2 separate regions of the Homo sapiens genome follow, and region 1 is linked to region 2. Evidence: fine-mapped QTL for protein levels in blood plasma. A gene starts in region 2. The other region holds a variant in brackets. All regions are shown on one strand. Distances are from middle to middle.

The links. PIP is the posterior inclusion probability: the model's chance that the variant is causal. Protein levels are from antibody-based Olink assays in UK Biobank. Linkage for the fine-mapping came from a reference panel and not from the study's own genotypes, which makes the PIPs less certain.
Region 1: its variant is fine-mapped to the plasma level of the IL31RA protein (UK Biobank, PIP 0.98).

Annotation. Positions count from the first base shown.
Region 1 is chr5:55,914,137-55,916,636 of GRCh38, forward strand. IL31RA (interleukin 31 receptor A) reads left to right here. Exons shown (of 15, transcript NM_139017.7): 14 at 711-792. Among named protein-coding and RNA genes, the nearest start is that of IL31RA, 64 kb to the left of the region's middle. The variant G/C (reference allele first, on the strand shown) is at 2,147.
Region 2 is chr5:55,849,658-55,852,596 of GRCh38, forward strand. It overlaps IL31RA (interleukin 31 receptor A), which reads left to right and starts at 1,700. Exons shown (of 15, transcript NM_139017.7): 1 at 1,700-1,976. The coding sequence starts at 1,914.

The DNA.
Region 1 (2,500 bases), 64 kb after region 2:
CTTATGGCACCCTAATGGTCCTCCCCTGGTTGAGCTGTCTCTCCAAATTAGACAGTTGTGAGTCATCTCTGTCAAGCAGCTGCACTTAGTTAATGGTCAAGCTAATATCAACCTCCGTTACCAACTGTAGGTAATAACCAAGCCACCAGCATAGATTCTTGTACATTATGCACTTAAGTAATCATTTTGATCTTAGCATGCATCAGAATCAGGCCTCACCCCCAAAGTTTCTGATTCAGTGGTTCTAGGGTAAAGCCCCAAAATGTTCATTTCTAACAAGTTCCCAGGTGATCCCAATGCTGCTGGTTGGGACCACACTTGGAGAACCATTGCAGGAAAGTATGGGTAGCTTATAAGGTTTATAAAATGTTGTCTTTCCCAGAGGATAAGCCTCAAAGGAATGACTCTGTGATGGTGCAATTTACAGCATTGGGACCAGGTATGGAGATGCTGGGATGGGAGAGAGGGGAAGATAGGCTTTGTATGGGGAGAGTCTCCTTTGATCACATCCCACAGAGAACTTGCAATGTCACCCCCCAACACACACCGCAAAACAACTCCACTTTCCCAGGTTCTATTAGGCAGACATGCCCTTATTTAGGAGGGAAACTTACAATTCCCTTTAGCACAGCCTCACTCTTTTGACTCAGCCATATGGTGCTAATGCTTCTTGGATTCAATTCCCATCTTAAAATCTTCTCTCTCATTAGCAAATTGACTCATCTGTGTTGGCCCACCGTTCCCAACCCTGCTGAAAGTAGTATAGCCACATGGCATGGAGATGATTTCAAGGTAAACTCTCCTGTTTTTATTAAGGAAATCATTGCCGTGGGAGGTAGACGAGGTGAATGGAGATGGGGAAAGAGTCCTAGGCTGAGCTTTTTTCAAGGTTCACATCAAGAGAACTGGAGTTGAAAAGTCTCAGGGAATGGCAGGCAGGGCAGATGGACTCAGCCTTCCTGGAATGACTTTGACTTCATGCTTTGACAAGGGGAAAGGGCTTCACCAGGCTCATGAGGACCCAGTGCGTTCCCAGGTGGAACTGGTCCCATAAAGGATGCTGCAGAATAAAGACACTGGCCCTACCCTTCCTGACCTGATGGGCTAATTAGAGAGAGAGGAGCCTTGGCTATAGGATTTGAAGCCATTTACAAAGCAGCCAAGAGCACATTAATCTAAAGACTGTCTAAATATCACCAGGGAATGTTGATGGGCATGGCAGTCTGAGGCTGCCTCAGGTTGTTTTTCTCAGGCTGGGGACGTCAGAGTCAGGCTTTATTTAACTGGCATTGGGGTTTTCTAGTGAGTATTCCTTAACTAGAAACCCTCCATTTGCATAAATTTTTAAGTGGAAAACCGTTAGGGAAATTTTAAGGTTTAATTTCTTGCTTACGTAGAAACAAGCCCAATCAAATATAACCTTTAAATCCTTGTTACTGAAAGGCTGTTTCCAGTTTTTCCTTGATGCACAAATTTTAAATATTAGTCCTCGTTCCCACTCAGAAGTCTTTTTTGAGCATGGGCCTTTTGTTATAATGGGCTTTCTTTCTGTTTCCTCCTCTTATCAGTCCGGTATACTGGACTGATTTATACCCCCATTTACTTTCCTGCTTATTAAATGTCATTTAGAGAGTAAATGGATTCATAGGCAGTGCTCTCTGATAACTAACATGCTTTTTGAATAATCCGTAGGTTGGACCTCTAGAGCCGGCACTTATTAATCACTCACTACATGCCAGGTGCTGGGCTAGGCCCTAGGGATACAAATGACAAAGTCACTGTCCCTGCCATGAGGCCACTTCTGATTTTCTGGTGAGGTTGAACAAGTCTGTCTCTATGATGTGGTTTTTCCATCCCTAAGAGTTCTAATTTTAGTTCTTCCATCTTAACTGGGGTTTTGTGAACATGGGATTGTGTGGAAAATAGCCTTGCACACTCTAGCAGAAGAAATTGTTTGAATTGGCTGGGTACAGCGGCTCATGCCTATAATCCCAGCATTTTGGGAGGCCAAGGCAGGGGGGATTGCTTGAGCTCAGGAGTTTAAGACCAGCCTGGGTAACATGACAAAACCCCATCTCTACAAAAAATTAAAAAGTAGCCAGGTATGGTGGTGTGCATCTGTAGCCCCTGCTACTCAGGAAGCTGA[G/C]GGGGAAGAATTACCTGAGGCTGAGAAGTTGAGGCTGCAGTGAGTGGTGATCATGCTACTGTACTCCAGCCTGGGCAACGGGAGTGAGACCCTGTCTCAAAAAAAAAAAAATTATATACATATAAATAAATAAATTTTAAAAATTGTTTGAATCCAGGGCACTGTTTCTCAGGAAATGTGCCACTCCTTCCAAGCTCTGTGGAAGGGCATGCAGAGAGGGTTGGCTACCACTTCTGGGCCTGGGAGGAAGGTGGGGGCTGTTCCAGAGATGGGCATTTGCTGTCCCAAGCCTAACGAGTTTTTGGCTATGTCATATGTGACTCCTAAATGACCACTTGGGATGTCCCTTTTTCT
Region 2 (2,939 bases):
TCCATGTATTTTTTCATTGGAAATATCCCTCCTTGAGCCTGGCGTCTGCCACTCACTTGGGCTAGTTGCTCTCCAAGCCTGTTGTACTCTTATCATCTTGGGATCTCCCTTGGCCACCATTCTTGGAATTCTCTCTCTTCTATTTGAAATTTGCTGTTTTTGGGAGCCCATTTTTCCTTTTTGTTTTGGCTTATGCTCTTGTTTTTGTAGTCACTTTTTTCAATAACATCTCGAAAATGGTCACATGGGAGATAAAGTTCTTGAAACTTGGCATGTTGGAAAATGCAGTTTCAAGAACGTTGTTTTACCTTTCTTTCTGATGGATCATTTGGATGGGTAGAGCATCCTAGGTGAGAAATAATTTTCCAATAGAGTTATAAAGGAATTGATCCATTGCTTTCTAACTTCTGGTTTTGTTATTAAGTCTAAAGCCATTCTCATCCTTGATCCTTTGTATGTGACTTATTTTTTTCCTATCTGGAAACATTTTTTTTCTGTTTATTCTTGATATTCTGAAACTTCACTGTTTTGTACTTCAGTGTAGATTTATTTTCATTTATTATGCTGTTTACAGTGGGCCCTTTCAATCTGGAAACAAATGTTCCTCAATTCTTGGGAATTTTATTGTATCACTTCTCTCATTATTTCTTTCCCTCCATTCCTCTGTTCTGTGCTTCTGTACTGCTGGTAGTCAGATGTTGGCTATTCTTCATCTCTTTGTCTTTTCTTCTATCTTCTGGAAGATTTCCTCAACTTTATTTTCTAGTCTTTAGACTTCAGCTCTCATATTTTGAATCTCCAAGAGTTCTTGTTCTCTAATTATGCCTTTATCATAGCATCCTATTCATATTTTGTGGGTACAACATTTTTTCTTATTTTCTATGAAGGTTTAACTAATATTTCTTTTAAAAAATATTCTGCTTTCTGCATTGCCTTTCTTTCAAGTTTTTTCCCCCCATCTGCTGTTGGGATGGGAGAAATTTAATGAATTTGGCTTTGTGGGGTTAGGATTAGGTAGTCTATTTCTTTTTCAGATTTTCAACCAATCTTATGATTTTTGTTTCAGAGGTATAGTCAATTCTCATTATTCCTTCATTATTCCTGGCAATTATGTTCAATAAAATCGCCACAAACACTGAATTAGAAAATACTGCTGAGCGTGGTGGCTCATGCCTGTAATCCCAGCACTTTGGGAGGCCGAGGCAGGTGGATCACCTGAGGTCAGGAGTTTGAGACCAGCCTGAACAACATGGAGAAACCCCGTCTCTACTAAAAATACAAAATCAGCTGGGCTTGGTGGCGCATGCCTGTAATCCCAGCTACATGGGAGGCTGGCCTGAGGCAGGAGAATCACTTCAACCCGGGAGGTGGAGGTTGCGGTGAGCTGAGATGGCGCAATTGCACTCCAGCCTAAGCAACAAGAGCGAAACTCTGTCTCAGAAGAAAAAAAAAAAGAAAAAAAGAAAATACTGAATTATTCTCTGTGGGGGAAATATAGAGTTAGGTGCCTGTGAGCCTCTGGTCACAACATTTTTGTCAGCTAATCAATACATAACCTTGTTTTGTGTGTGTTTCTGTTTAAAGACACCTTATTTAATATACATTGTTGATTCATCAACATTGAACTCATGGCTAATAACAGTACTATGACTCATGCCTGAATAGAGCTTATTTAACACACATATTTTCTCCATGAGGCACAGCCTCCTTCTGCTTAGGAACACCAGACAGCACTCCAGCACTCTGCTTGGGGGGCATTCGAAACAGCAAAATCACTCATAAAAGGCAAAAAATTGCAAAAAAAAATAGTAATAACCAGCATGGCACTAAATAGACCATGAAAAGACATGTGTGTGCAGTATGAAAATTGAGACAGGAAGGCAGAGTGTCAGCTTGTTCCACCTCAGCTGGGAATGTGCATCAGGCAACTCAAGTTTTTCACCACGGCATGTGTCTGTGAATGTCCGCAAAACATTGTGAGTATTGATTTGGGGGGTTACAAATAATTCCTAGCAAGTAGGTGAATTCACAAATAAGGAAGCTGTGAGTAATGAGGGTTGATTTTACCTACCTAGTGTCTCAAATCCTGAGCCGTATGAGATTCCGTGGCATAATTATGTTTGCTTATTGTTGGCAACCTTATTAGGCATTTCTAGGTTTCTGCTTTCTCATCTTTACCAGTTCAGTTATGGCTTGATTCATTTCTCTTTTTCCAAAGATTTGTTGACATCTCTTATTTGCTGTTGCCTCTTCCCATTTGTTTTGTCTTGTGGTTCTATATCTTTGCCATAATTTTTGTGGAGTTTCCTGAGAGAGTAGAGATAAATGTATATGCTCAATTGGTCTTGTCTTAACCAGAATTCTATTTAATACACAACACCTTTAGTGAGCTGTTATGCATGTAATAGGTGTTTACTAAGTATTGGTTGAATAAATTCAAGAAATGCTTGCTATTTTTGTGCTAGCATTTAGCTTTTCTCTATAGTATATTATAATGGAATTTTATTTTATTTTATTTTATTTATTTTTTGAGACAGAGTTTCACTCTTGTCGCCAGGTTGGAGTACAATGGCACGATCTTGGCTCACTGCAACCTCTGCCTCCCGGGTTCAAGCGATTCTCCTGCCTCAGCCTCCCGAGTAGCTGGGATTACAGGTGCCTGCCACCATGCCTGACTAATTTTTTTGTATTTTTAGTAGAGATGGGGTTTTGCCATGTTGGTCAGGCTGGTCTCAAACTCCTGACATCAGGTGATCCACCTGCCTCAGCCTCCCAAAGTGCTGGGATTACAGGCGTGAGCCACCACGCCTGGCTGGAATTTTAAATATCTCATAATTATAATCTTCTAGGTAAAAGACTAGCTCTCTTTCTCACCCTTATTCCTCCTACTTAGTGGAACATTGCCTAAGGAAGATGGGGAATGGGTTAAAAATTAAAAT